Linked DNA regions of Homo sapiens: region 2 is reported to be linked to region 1. The links are microRNA targets in miRTarBase. Many come from high-throughput screens and were not tested one by one. Region 1 holds a microRNA gene; the other region holds the end of a gene's coding sequence.

The links. Region 1 holds the annotated microRNA hsa-miR-149-3p (AGGGAGGGACGGGGGCUGUGC, at 2,385-2,405, opposite strand). A microRNA usually pairs through its seed, bases 2 to 8, with sites in the 3' UTR of a target mRNA and lowers its output. Matches are read on the target gene's strand: a 7mer-m8 pairs with bases 2 to 8, a 7mer-A1 pairs with bases 2 to 7 and ends in A, and an 8mer does both.
Region 2: miRTarBase lists NKX6-2 as a target of hsa-miR-149-3p. Seed matches in the 3' UTR shown: 7mer-m8 at 6,088-6,094.

What each region holds. Positions count from the first base shown.
Region 1 is chr2:240,451,349-240,458,460 of GRCh38, reverse strand. MIR149 (microRNA 149) reads right to left here and starts at 2,460; the gene lies at 2,372-2,460. The region is part of intron 1 of GPC1 (glypican 1); the gene reads right to left. It overlaps GPC1-AS1 (GPC1 antisense RNA 1), which reads left to right and starts at 1,761. Exons shown (of 3, transcript NR_161169.1): 1 at 1,761-1,864. RefSeq lists enhancers at 1-557, 2,510-3,160 and a silencer at 5,656-5,705.
Region 2 is chr10:132,778,653-132,785,753 of GRCh38, forward strand. NKX6-2 (NK6 homeobox 2) reads right to left here. Exons shown (of 3, transcript NM_177400.3): 1 at 6,891-7,101; 2 at 6,628-6,800; 3 at 4,529-6,518. The coding sequence ends at 6,264. INPP5A (inositol polyphosphate-5-phosphatase A) reads left to right here. Exons shown (of 16, transcript NM_005539.5): 14 at 2,197-2,265; 15 at 3,209-3,296; 16 at 3,385-4,828. The coding sequence ends at 3,289. Among named protein-coding and RNA genes, the nearest start is that of NKX6-2, 3.9 kb to the right of the region's middle.

The DNA.
Region 1 (7,112 bases):
CATGAAAGGGTCATTGGACCATGCCCCAAGCCCTGCAGGGTGCACCCTGTGCCTCCTGGTGTCCTTGTGGAGTCCCCTCCTCTGCAGCCTGCCATGAGCTACTCTGCTCCAGCGTCCGAGGCAGTGACAGCGGCACTGCCATCAGAGACAGCTTCACCTCCTTGTGGGGAGTGGGGACAGGACAGGCTTTGAGTCAGCTCTCAGCCCTGCTGTGCACACCTCAGGGCCCACCTGGAATGGGTGTGTGGCATCAGGAAAAACTGCATTTTTTAAAGGGTGTGCATCGCACTGTGATGAAGGCTGCCGCAATCCTCATTTTATTAACCAGAAAACCGGGGCTTACAGGGATGAGGTCTCGTCCCAGCTATACAGTGAGGGGGCAAGTGGTTCCGGCTGCCTAAGCTCAGGACTCCACACTGACGGGGCCACACTGTTCCTTCTGGGCCTCGTCCCCCGCCTCTAAGGCCCTCCTGGTGCTGGCCTAGGTCAGGCACAGTGGAGAGGTGGAAGCAGGAGCCTGGCTTGGTCAGAGGGGTGGGGTCAAGGGGGGGCGTTGTCAGCAGGAATTCCAGCAACTTTCCTCAGGACTGCCGCCTCAGGGGCCTGTCTCATCCTGTTCTGGGACCCTGGGCCAGGGTGGCTGGAATGCAGCAGGTCCTGCATTCTTTTACGCCCTCCTGAGGGTCAGCAGGAAGTGAAGGCCAGGCCAGGGAGGAGAGGCAGGAGAGGGAGCCAGGACCGGGACCGAGGGCGGGGTCAGCCCGGGCAGAGGCACCTGGCTCGAGGCTGTCCTGGGGGAGCTGGCAGCAGCTCCAGCCCTGCCTGGAGGTGGGAGCAGGGATCTGTAGCCCCACTGCAGGCAGGGCCTGGAGCAGCGCAGGCAGTGCCCTACCCGCTTACTGCAAGAGAAGTCACCCCTCAGGCCTGGGGTCCAGGAAGCCCTTACCCACTAGAGGCCATCTGGGGTGGGGACCCAGGACTAGGTAACTACCCAGAGGTTGAATGCCTGGGTCAGACTGAGTTTGCTGATCTTCCGCACCCTCTAAGTACACACACTCAGGGAGGAGCCCGAGACAAGAGAAGGGAACAGAGAACCCGAATCCGGGCTTGGGCGGCTGCCGCTTGGCCCCTGTAGCCTCTGTGCCTGCTGACATGACAGCAAGGAGACAGGTTGTCAGAGGGGCCTGGGAGAGCGAGGGAGGGCCGAGGTAGGGGTTCTTATCCTGGAGCGCTCCCTCCTTGCCCTCTTTTCCTGTCTGAGTTCTGGAATGTACTGATGCAGGGGGCTCTGGCTTGAGCTAGAGGGGGAGGGAGTCCTCCGCAGGGGCTGCAGGTCCAGGGATTCCCCAGGGCCTGGACTTACATGTGCCCATGCTGCAGACAGAGCGGGAATGGCAAGTGCACCTGCGCCCCCCGCCCCTCCTTACCTCCAGATGCCTGCTGGAGGGGGAGTTGGGGGTCCAACAGAGTCTGGGGCCAGGAGGGCCTTGTGGGAGCCAGCTGGGGTGAGGACAGAGCCCGGCTCTGAGAGCCCTGGGGCCTAGTAGAGAAGGGGTGCTCCTTCCCCACTCCTCACATGGGTGGGAAGGCGCCCTCAGGCAAGAAGACTGGGACACAGGTACACTCGCCAGGGACCATCCTTCACTCTGCAGCCTTTATTCACTGATGGGATTCTGCCCCAGTCCCACCCCCGTGGGGGCAGGATTTAGAGCAGGAACCGCCCCTCCGGGTCCTTTCCTGGGGCCTGTGCCAGGCTGAGCAGACTCAGGAGGCGTCTCTCCGAGGGTGTGGGCTGTGATGGGGCCCTGTGCACCCATCCAGGCTGCCCAGACCAGGAGAGCACAGGTCAGCCGGACACATGATGGTAATGGGCTGGGCAGTGGGAGGGAAACGTGCCTGGGGGAGGGGGTGGCAGGTGCCAGCTGAGCTTCCCGGTGACACACCCTGGGCTCAGCTGAGATGGGCTCAGCTGTGACGGGGCACCCAGGCCAGGCTGGCTGGGCCACAGGAACCGAGTGAGCTGGTCCAAGACTCAGGACTAGGGCTCAAGCACTCCTAGGGAGGAGGGTGGGTGGCGTCCCCCGCCGGCTCCTCCTGTGCCCCTCCCTCGCGAGGTCCCGGCGGACCCACTCCCCAGCCCCCACCACGCAGACGGGAGAGGCTGACGAGAGGCATGGAGAGGTGAGGCCCGAAACACCCGTAAGATATGGGAGCTCCCCCCACCTGCAGGTTCTGAGGGGCTCCTCGGCGCCGTCAGCCACCTCTCACACCCCCTCACGGCCGCGCACCGGCCCCCGCGCCTCAGCCTCCCCCGCCGACCCCTCAGCCCCGCCCGGCCAACTCGCCCAGCCGGCCCGGCGACCTGCGTTGTTCCAGCTGCCCCAGCACAGCCCCCGTCCCTCCCTCCCTCCTCGGACAAGCACGGGAGTGAAGACACGGAGCCAGAGCTCGGGCGCCGGCCTGGGAGCCCCCGGCAGGCTGGACGCAAGGCGGGCGAAGGCCTGGGAGCCTCGGGCAGGCTGGATCGAGGCGGCCCCCTGAGGCCCGCTGCAGGCTGGACGCACGGCAGTCAAAGGCAGGAGGCCTCCCGCTGGCTTCCTTCTGCGGAGCTCCGGCCCGGCGCAGGCCGGGGCCACAGGTTGTGGTCCTGGACATGAGATGGCAGAGGCCGGCTCTGCAGAGTCCCCCTGCAGGGCGGCAAAGCAAGCCCCCTCCTGGAAGAATGCCAGGGGCTGGGGCCTTTCTGAATGGAGAGCAATGTGCCCAAGACCAGCTGTCATCTTAAATCTCCCCACCCAGGGGCCTCCCCACCCCCAGGGGCCTCCCCACCACTTCTCTCAGCTCAACACCTGGGGATAGAGAGGCCTCAGGCCAGGAGGGAACCCTCCCCATGTCCCTCTCCCTCTCCTTCCTGGCCTTTCTCCTCCTCCAACCCAGAGGGAGGCATTTTCCAACCTAGGGGGTGAGTCCCGGCAGCCCATCCCCTTCCCCCCGTGCAGGGAGGCATCTGGGCCCTTCCGGCCCACCCCTCCCTCTGGCCCTGGGGCTGCTCAGGTCAAGGTCACCGGGCCTGCTCCCCGCTGGGCCAGGGACTGGACCCTCTCTTCCCTGATCCCTGGGCTGAAGTTGCTGTAGCCGACCCATCCTTCCACAGCGCTCCCCTCCCTCAGTCACTGGGACACTTCCCTTCCCCAGTGCTCTGAGGATTTTTTTGGGGGGGAAGGGGATTATTTGTTTAATGGCAGATTCATCCCCCACCTCAAACCCAGAGTCTCCAGTTCCCAGGCTCCTGCTCCTCAGGTTAAAGCACAGAGCTCTTGCTCCCTGGCTCGTAGGCAGCTGCTGTCTCGTTCCATCTTCCCCCTCCCGATCCTGACGGTTCTGGACCACCCCACTCTGCTGCTCCTCACTAAGCCCCCACCAGCCTTAACTTTGGATACCTTTTAGGTCATGCATTCTCGTCCCCTGCTGACATGTCCCCACCCCGCAGTTTCCTCTTGGTCATCAGCACCTTCACCCCAAAGCTTTAGGCGAGACTCCCATCCTGACAGTGGCCCCCATCCCCAATGATGGACCCAGACCTCATTTGTCCAGACCCAGCCTGGCAGCTGCCCGTGACCAGTGGCTCTGGAGCCCTCCCAAGGAGAATGCAGAGAGATGATGGCGCCACGCCACGCCCATCCCTCCAGAAGCTTCCACGGCTCACACAGGAGGTGCAGACTGTAAAGCCGGCTTTATCCACCTTTACAGCCTCGTCCTAGACACTCAGTGTCAACAGACTCGAATGCCTAAGGTACCGGAATTTGGCGTGGACAGTCAGCCTGCATTGCCTCCCACGGTGCTGGAGTAGGGCTGTGTGCAGAGCTCCAGGCACCGCAGCCCCCCAACACGCAAGGGAAGAGCCTAGGCCTCCCCGCTCCTGCCCTCTACTCAGCTCTGCACCCGGCAACGGGGCCTTCCTGGCTGGCCGATGGCTGCGAAGGCTTTCCCCAAGCCCGAACCCTCTTCTCGAAGCCTGCCCCAGCCCCTGGCCCATCTGCTCTCGGACCCCAACCAGCTCCGGTGGCTGTGGCATCCTCCGGCACGTCCAGCAGCCTCCTGGGGTGAGGGTGCACTGGACAAACGACCCAGGGGGTTTCCTGGGGACCACCCACTGCCCAGGCTGCAGAGGATCTTTTCCTCACTTTTGCCCCATCCTCTAAGAAGCCTGCGCCCCTGGCCAGTCCCTGTCCGCCTGGGCTCCTGACGTCTGAGCCAGAGGCAGCCTTGGCCCCACCTGCGAGGTGGACCGGCCACGGCATCTCAGCTCCTCGTCAACGGCATCCACGGCCCCCAGACTCACCCCATCGTGCTTCCCTCCCCTCCCCACACCCCTGCCGTCTGCCCGAAGCCCCCCCGCCACCATTTCACCCAAATGACAGCGTCGCCAAGGAGCCCCTCCGCCGCCGCAGAACCTCCGCCGCGCACTGCGACCCGAAACCGAGGGGCGTCGTAGGGACACCTCTGCCCCGGGTGGGAGGGTCCGCGCCCCAGGCCGGCTAAGGCTCCTGTCACCCGCGGCTGCTTGCGAGGGCGACAGGCGTGAAACCGGCCCCGGCGGCGGAACAAAGGCTCGGCGGCACCGGCGGCAGCGTCGCCGCCCTGGGGGTCCCGGGCGCCCCGATGCCAGTCGCCAGCCGCCGCGGCCAGGGACGAAGACGGCAAACCGCGCAGCCGGAGCGGGTGCGCAGGGGTCTGGACACGCAGCAGCGCCGGCGGCCCGGCGAGGAGGGGGCACTGGTGCAGTGGGCGCGGCGGGGAGGGAAGGGGGCGGGCGGGGAGAGGGGGCTGCGGCGGGCAGGCGAGGGGAGGGGGGCGCCGCGATTGGCGGGGAAGGGGCTTGTCGCAGCGGGTGCGGCAGGCACGGGGGTGGGGGAGGGGGCTCGAAGGGCTGCGACGGCCCGGGGAGGGGGATGGGCCTGGCGGAAGAGGAAGGGGGGCCCCGGGGCGGCGGCAGGCGATGCGGGAGCGGGGCGGGCGGAGGGAGCGGGGCGGGCGGAGGGAGCGGGGCGGGCGGAGGGAGCGGGGCGGGCGGAGGGAGCGGGGCGGGCGGAGGGAGCGGGGCGGGCGGTGGGAGCGGGGCGGGCGGTGGGAGCGGGGCGGGCGGTGGGAGCGGGGCGGGGACGCCGGGATGCGGCCCGGGAGGGGTAGGGGTAGGTGCAGCTGGGGCGACGGGTGGGGTGGGACTGGGGACGGGCCACGGACTCCCGACAGGAGGGGCGGAAAGGGGATGGGGCTGCGGCGGCCAAGCGGGGCAGGACGGAGCGGAGGATGGGACAGAGGCGGTGGGGACGAGGAGCGGGTGGAGATGGGGGTGGCGCGCCTGCGGATGCGGGTACGGTGGCGCTGCGGGAGAGGTCCTCGGGCCTGGCTTCCAGCGCGGCGGCGGACGCGGGACCCCCTTCGCAGCGGCGGCTCCAGCGGCTCCGGGCGGCGCGCGGGCTCTGGGTGCAGGTGCTCGGGCCGGGGAAAGGCGGCGGAGCGGGGCCGGGCGGAAGGGCTCGCAGGAGGCGAAAAGCCAGCGGGGGACGAGGGCGGGCTGCGGTCCGCCGGGCGCGCGGGAGACTCTGGCCGCAGCCACCCCGGGCAGCGCCGCAGCCGCACTGGCGCGCACGGCCGAGGGCGGTGGCTCCCGGCGCGGGGACGAGCGTCCTCCCGCAGCCCCCGCCCCGCCGCGCTCGGCACCGCCCCCGTCTCCCTGGAAACCGCAGGCGGCCGCCCCGGCCCCTCCGGCCAGGTCCCCGCCGCCCTGCGCCCGCCTTCCTGCCCGCCGCCGAGGCCGGGCCCCTCCCTCCCGCCTGCGGGTGCTGCTCCTGTTCTCCGCGGGCAGTCCGGGCCTCCTAGGCTCCCCACTGCAGCTAAGCGGGCCCAGGCCTTGGTGCAGGGGCTCCTGGGTCTCAGCAGGGCCGGCGCTCGGGGGAGCCGGGGCCCCTCCCCGGAGGGTAATGGGGGCGGGGTGTCGGGTTTCTCTCTGTGCTGAAGGTGGCAGCTGACCACCGCTGTCCTCACGCAAAGCTGCCATGGTCATTCCACATCCTCTACCTGCCCCCTCCAGCCCCCAGTCCAATGGCACCCGGGCCTTGACTCCAGACCCCCCTGCCCCTATATCCTGACCTGCTTTCCCTCTGACATACCAAACCCAACAGGCCACATCCTTCCACCAAGTCTCCCACCCAGGTGCCCCCAGCCTGGGAGGTCTATGCTGTGCGCCTCTGGCCCCTCCTTGGACACCAGAGGGACAGCCTCCCGCCAACACCCTCCCCTCCCTGCAGCCCAGGTCCTGCGTGGCTCCCACTGTCCCGGCCCAGCTCCCCACCTTCCCCAGGCCTGCTGACCCAGCCAGACAAAACCACCCACTCACACCAGTTCCCCTCTGGCCGCACTCCGGCCTCTCGGCCGGTCTGCAATGGGCACACTGAGAGCTGCTGGACAGACCACCAAGGCAGGCCACAACACCGGAGACCCCCAAAGACGGGGCTTTCACCAGGCAACTCATAAGACTGCTCTCTAAGCTGCCCAGATCCTGCTTGGGGAACCCCTGAGCAGGCCATCCTGCCGGCAGACGCCAGGTCTGGGCGGTGCCGGCCCTGGCATGGCACGACGGCAGGGGTCCATCAGATGGGAGCCTAGTCACAGCTCGGGCCAAGAAGCCGCGTGCCCTGTGCAGGCCTCCCCCCATGCCAGCCTGCTCCACTGTCTGAGGCTCATGCTGTGGCCTCAGACTGGGGATGAAAGGGGATTCAGAATTTGTGTCACGAACCTCCTGCCACACCCAGGACCCGGTGTCTTGGCTGTAAGGCAGAGCCCACTCTTCGAACCCAGGATGAGGTGCTCCCCAGAGGCCGTGCCCCCAGGCCTGGCTCAGCCTTTCTCCTCCTTGGCTTGGTGGAGCTGAAGAGGGCACTCACATCTCTATGCCCAACCCTGCCAGCAGGGTGGAAATTCAGGCAGGCTGTGGGAGGGTGGGGTTGTCCTCCTGGGGCTCTGCCCAGCTCTCCCATCTAGCTTCCCGTACACCCACTGCAGGGGCCACAGGCACCCAAGGAGGCCTGGAAGATGGACTGGCCCTCCCT
Region 2 (7,101 bases), not on the chromosome of region 1:
GTGCAATCGGAAGGAGGCTGGAGACTCTGGTGGTTCCACTGCCAGCCTGGTGGGCTCTGCCCCCTCTCCACTGTCCCAGGCCCAGAGCAGGGACAGGAGCCCCCTACTAACCCCGACTTCAACACCAGCTGTGTGAGGCTCCAGTTGTCCCTCACTGCCCATCTGTGTCTGTGCCAGACGGCACCAGACCCCAGGCACAGCAAACACCTGGGTACAGGTGTGCCCTCAGCAGGGCGGGGACCTCTGCAGCCCTGGTCCCTGAGATGCACCCTGCTGGCCTCTGCCATGTGGCTCTGTCTGCCGGGCCGGGTTCCTTACTGTTCCTTCCTACATCCTGGAGCACCCTGGGTGCAGCCTGCCCTCCGTCCCTGGCTGTGCTGTGAGGAGCCTGCCTGGTGGGGGCCTGGGCTGGAGGCGGGGCCCCTTGGCCAGAAGTCCCTGGGGTCTGCAGCCAGCCTGGCTCCTCCGCAGCCCCACCTCTGGCCTGTGGGCAGGGCCTGTGCCCATCATTGAGGAAAGTGTGCTGGCCACAAGCCCAAAAGCCCAGGAGTGGGCTCGGCCTGGAGCCTGGCTGTGGACCTGCCACTGCCCCTCTGGCTGGGCTCACTGGTAGGCACGCCAGTCCCTCGGTGCCACATGGTGGGTGCTCCCATCTGCCAGTGCTGAGAGCGGGTCAGGCATGTGGAGCCCAGGGCTGCCACCAGCGGGGCAGGAGCCTCCCGGGGACTCGGGCACAGATGCCATCCCCTGGGAAAACGTCGGAGGTCACGCGAGTGCAGATTGGTGAGCAGCGCCCAAGGGCAGAAGGCTGGCAGGGCTGTGGCCTCCCCACATTGTGCTGCCGCTGCCAGGGCTCCACCAGCTCAGAGCAGGGCAGCGTTGCAGCCCGTTTTCCATTCACTCACAGCCTCTCGGGTTCTCTGGATCCGGGACTTGACACTTTATGCTCAGGGTGGGGGACAGAGCCTCACAACACACACCTGGCGGCCTTTGACAGCCCCTGCCTTCTGGGGCTGGAGTTTGGACAGGCTCTCCCCATGGGGCCACCCAGTGGGCAGCGGGTGTGCAGGACAAGCAGACGGGCGCCGGGCGCGCTCCGCAGCCTCATCCATCATGACACGCGCCGTCACCTCGTCACCAAGCTCCGTTCTGCCTCCGGAGCCCTAAAACACCAAAAGGGGCTCGGGACGCGGGCGGTGCTGCTTGGGGAGCCTCGGTGACAAGTGTTCAGTGAGGTGTGCCGCACGCTGCCTGTGCCCGCCGTAATTTGTTTATCTGTCCAAAGATTATGCAGTTGAAAATCCACAATTTTATGCTGCCTTTGTAAATTACCACGCTGCGTTTGATGAATGTTTCTCCACTTCTGCGGAGGCGCCGCTTCACCCGCGAGAGGCGGGAAGGTGCTCATGCATGCGGTGCCGAAGCTTGTTTTCTCATTCTTTCTGGCAGGCGCCCATGCTGGAAAGTAAATCTGACCTTGAGCTTCCCACTGCATTAAAGATAACTCAGTTTTACCTGGATAGTCTCAGATGCTCCAGCTGTGGATATAAAATTCCAGCCCAACCAGAGCCGAGTGCTGACCAGCAGCAAACCCCTTCCGGAGGCGCCCGGAATACAGGCACCTGCTGGGAAGTGCGCACACAGCCGTGAATTACTGTGCACAGATTGCTTTGTGTAGTGGTGTGGAATTCGGTGTCTGTTCTCGTTTGAACACTGAGTTCTAGGTTAATAGAACAGTCAAAAACAAATCAAAGTGGGAAGATTGGAACTAGATGGGCTGCCGCACTCAGAGGAGCACACCTGCACAGAAAGCTGGGGCGCACACACTCCTGTGAACAGGGTCCCCTGCAACTCCCCTGAGAGCCCAGGAGCATGTCCGGGAGAGGGGAGCTTGGGAGCCGGGCCAGCACCCGCGGCTCCCCACGCGACCCCTCCTAGAGGCAGATACCTGTTGTCCAAAAGGGCCAGGGTCAAGGTGCTGAGGCGCTGCCACATCACCAGAGCCTTTGGTCCATGAGCTGGCCTCTCTCTCAGGGGCCAGGCAGGGCGGGTGGCAGAGGCTGGGGAGGTACTGGCAGGGGCCGACATCCCCATCTCTCTGCCCCCACAAAACCCTGATGTTCCTGCCAGTCAGCTCCCAACTGGACCCAGGGTGCCCCACCTCCCCACACTCACCTGTCTGTTTCCCCTTTCCAGTCGGAGAGCGAGGAGAAGGTTGTCACCTATGACCACATTGGGCCCAACGTCTGCATGGGAGACCACAAGGTGACATAGACTGAGGTCCAGGGGCCAGGCTGGGGGACCAAGGGGAAGCTAGGGGGCCGGGGGGCTGGGGCCAGTGGGTGGGCGGGTGCTGGGGCTGGCAGGCAGGTGGGCGGGGGTTGGCCAGTCTCTCCTCTCCTGTTCTCCTGTCTTCTTAGTCTGACTACAGAGTAGGCCAAGTTGGTCTGTTTTTATTTAATTTTAATAAAATATCATAAGCTAGGTGGGTAAGTAGGAAGAAGGCAGAAATGACGTTACAATAGAATAAAATACATAATTTAATATTTGTAAAAAAATGTCCACAGCTGATTGTTTCTGAAGGCTGTTTTGCAAATATGCAGCTTCAGTGTTTTAATGGCCTTCTTGGGGCAGGCTCACTGTCAGCCGAGGAGCCGGGGTGAGGGCGCTCCCCACCGTGTGCCAAGGGGCAGCACTGGCACAGATCGTTTATTCAGGCAACTGCACCTCGAGAGTGTGCACAGGAGACAGATCAAATCTCATTTTCAGCCAATAAATGAGTTAGCTTCTTCCACGTTGGAGGCCCAGAGCTGTGAGCCCCAAACACACCCGGATAAGACGCTGGACCTGCCAGGTGCGGCAGAGCCGAGGACGGGAGAGCCTTCCTTCCCCGCTTCATTTGGGGCCTATTTAGCCATTCTTTTACATCAGTTTTTCCATTAATTTTTTTACCTGGAAATAACACCTTCCTTGCAAAACCTCTCATGGCCGGCCTGGCTCCAGTTCCACATTCACGGGGCCCCCAACCCCTGCGCTGCCGTGGCTGTGCACAAGGGCCGAGCTGCCTCTGCTGGCCATCAGCTCCTCCCAGCCCGGTTCATGGCTGCCCTGGTGAGACGCAGGGTCTGGGGGTGCAACGGGAGGCGGCGGCATGTGCTGTGCTGTCCCGCGTGCGCCGTGCTGACACCGTCCTCTCTTCCTGCTGCAGCCCGTGTTCCTGGCCTTCCGAATCATGCCCGGGGCAGGTAAACCTCATGCCCATGTGCACAAGTGTTGTGTCGTGCAGTGACGTGGTGGTAAATATGACTCCTCCCTCCAGTTCAGCTTTTACGCAGCTTTTCCTGGTGCGTTTGTTCCTTTAACAAATTACGAATTCCGTGACAGGGAAGAGATGCCAGCGCCACGAGAGGACACTTCGTGAGCCTCCCTGTAGCCGTGGACCGAATACGCACTCTTGAAAGCTGCATCGAGAACCCGCCCAAGCGCCACCTGCTAGACGGCCAGCCCCACACTTCGCTTCAGCCTCCGGACCATTCCGGAGCAGCCTCACATACCTCACTGTCTCGTCTGTCTATGTGACATTAAGTAGAAATATTGGTTTTTTTTTTTTTTTTTTAAATAAGTCACAGTCCTGTTGTCAAAACTCTAATAGACAGCAAAGAGGGTCTGTACCGTAGACTTCACAGTTTTCAGTTTTTAATGATTGCCAGTGGAGGGGCTTCTTCAGCACAGAGACCCCCCACTGTGTCCAGGGACCCCCTCTGCCAGGTGGAGGTGTGTCCAGGGGCTGGGGAAGCCGAGACGGGCACTCCCTCTGCCGGCCGGCAGCGTGGCCCTGAGCATGGCAAGGGGGTCTGTCTCTGCCGATGCTCCTTCCGCGGCACTGACTCTGCGCCGTGTCACATGGTTTTTGAATCACACTGCAGCTGCTTTCCATTTTTATATATATATAAATATATATAAATATATACTTTTTAAAAATAATTTATAAATCTTACCAAAACTTATGCTAAATATACTTTCCAGTATGAACGCACAGGAGAGTCCCATCAGCAGGCGGCATTGGAGTCTAGGAGCTCAGCTGTGTGTCCATCAACACACAAATTCGTAAAAAACACACATGGCCTCGCCATCGTGGGTAAAATCGGCCCCACAGCACGTCTGCACCAGCGGGCCGTTACTCCCATGCCGTTCTTCTGTGTAATATTAAGAACTGAATGTGAAGTTTATAGCTAGCCTGGGTGTACCTTTTAAGAATTTTGTAAACCGTTTGTCTGTCTTTTGTTACTGTTTTATGGTGCCAAGTATCCTACGTTACAACAATAATATCATGGGAGAAATAGAAATAGCCTAGTTTGCTTCCAATAGAAACTGCTTTTAACATGGGCTGTATATAAAAATATTAAAGAGAAACAAAACTGTACATTTCCTCATTGCTCCGCTACAGACAACCCATGTCATAACCTTGTTGCAAATATTTTTCTCCTATAGCAGTAAGTACAGCATTAGAAGGTGATTAGAGAGTCTGTTGATGAAACACAAATGTATGTTTTATTGATTTTACTTTAGAACACTACAGAGTTCCTGGACCGGGTGAAGGCATTAGCTGGGTGTTTGTGTGGGATAAATACTACCACTGCAAGTGACTGCTGTCCGCTGCGGAATCTGTTCTTGGTGGAAGCACAGGTCCGTGTCGCTGCTGTGGTTGCCGCTGTCCGCGGTTCAACACGGAGTCCGCCCCGCGGGTTTCAGCTGTTGGTCGTTCTGAGGGGCCTTTGGAAGTGACCGGTCTGGTTCCTAAGCAATAAAATTGACCGTGGTGAAAATAGTCCCGTGTTGCTTTTTCTTCCTTTCCCTTCTCCTGCCACCTTTGAAATGCTAACTCAGGGGAGCGGCCTCCTGTATAGCCTGTTATTTGAGATCAAGCTCATTAGAAATCCTGGAATTTCACTGTATCACACGCTGTCACAAAACACTAAGCCGTTCATTGAGAGGAGAAACACAGCCTTTTGGACTTTCTACTGTAATAAAGGATTTATCCCTCAACATTTTAAAACGGGATTATATCAACGCTTTGCCTTCCTCAAAACTTTAAGAAGCCCCTCTGCTCTGAGCTGAGAGGGGCTCCCCACAGAAAAGCGTTGCTTCTGCCCTTCGAGTTGCTTCCTTGTAAAGAAGGCTGCTAAGAGCCTAAAACAAAACGCGCCGAGTTTAAGCCCTTTCTATTTCCCTTTAACGCTTCCGCAAATGCCAAGAGAAATCGTACCACCGCAGTGATATCATTATTTACATTTAATTTTTAAAAATTAAAACTCAACAGCCACGCCCATTAAGATGCAGCGATGGGCAGCCCCGGCCACAGAGGCTGCGGGAGGCTGGAGGGGTTTTGTCAGCCGCAGTCACAGCCCCGCGGAGCTGGCGGCATTTCAGGGCAGGAGACGGGTCCCCCGAGCCCCCGGCTGGGCGCTGCGGGCCTTGCCCAGGGGGCCTCCGGCTCCCTGACCCCGCGTGACCCACGGGAGGCCCCGCCGCTCCGCGGGCGGAATTATTTCGGATTTCTCTTTGCGGTCCTAGTTCGGAAGAAACTGCTTTCCACCGCGGGAAGATCTGGCGGGATGGTGACCGAAGGGCCTCCGTGCAGCGGATCAGACCCGGTTCCACCGGCTGAGCCCAGGGCGGGCCTATGGGATCCGCTGATGCGCAGAGGGACTTTGGAAATAATCAGAGCGAAGCCCTCGGCCAAGCGGGAACGGGTGCCCGGTGGCAACGAGTACGTGGCCCCAAAGCGGGAAAACGGAAGAAGAAAAACCTCCCGCGGGGACTCGAGGCGGGTACGCGGCTCACCCGCCCTTTCGGGAACCCCCAAGCGCGTCCGAATCCGCCCCGAGGCGAGGCGGGCCGGGCCGTACCTGCTGCTCCGTCCCCGGCTCCGTCCCGGGCTCCTGGCGGCTGTCGCTGCGGTTCCTTCCCGCGGGCCGGGCCCCTTCCCTGCGCCTTCGCCGCCTCCTCGCGCCTGCCCGGGGCCCGCAGCCTCCGCACCGGGAACCCGGAGGACCCGAGGCGGGCGCAGGGGCGAAGCCGGGGCCGGGGAGGGGCCGCCTCGCTCCGGGTTCGAGACGGAAGAAACACGCGGCGCAGGCTCCGGAGCGACGGCTCCGACGGGGACCCGTTAAATAATTTATTGATGATACAAAGCGACTCGCGCCCACCCGGGGCCGCCCCCGGATTCTGCAAAAATAGATTCGCCCCCACCCCGCGGGTCCTCACAAGGCGTCCCCCGCGCCGCCGCCGCACGGGCTGACCAGCGCCAAGTTCGAGGGTTTGTGCTTCTTGAGCAGCCGCGTGATCTTCTCGTCGTCCGAGTTGGGGTCCAGGGGCCGGTTGTATTCGTCGTCGTCCTCCGCGTCCGAGCCGCCCACCTTCAGCTTCTCGGCGTCCGAGTCCTGCTTCTTCTTGGCCGACGCCATCTCCACCGCGTGCCGCTTGCGCCACTTGGTCCGGCGGTTCTGGAACCAGACCTGGGAGTGGACGGGGCGGTCAGGCGGCCGCGGGGCCCGGGGCTGGCGCTGGGGCCGTTCGCAGGACGCGGGCCCCCGGCTCTGCTCTCCCGAGCCCCGCCGCGCTCACCTTCACCTGGCTCTCGGTCATGCCCAGCGAGTAGGCGAGACGCGCGCGCTCCGGGCCCGCCAGGTACTTGGTCTGCTCGAAGGTTTTCTCCAGCGCGAAGATCTGCTGGCCCGAGAAGGTCGGGCGCGAGTGCTTCTTCTTCCCGTCCTTGTCCAGGACGCCGCCGGCCGGGGCTGCAAGGGAGGGGAAGGGAGGGAGGTCAGCGGCCGGCGGGGTCCCCCTCCGCGCCCACCCGCCCCGCACCCCCCGCGCGGGCCACTCACCCGGGCCAGCCAGACGCGGGTCCCTCCAGGGCGCGCCCTGCACCACGCCGGGCCAGAAGATGGGCGGGCGCCCCGGCAGCTCGGCCAGGGGCTTGGGGTAGCCGCGCGCCACAGCGGCCGCGGGCCCGAAGTAAACGCCGGCGGACGACGCGAGCCCGTTGAGCCGGGGCAGCCCCCCCAGGAGGCCCCCGCCCGCCGCGCCCACGGGCCG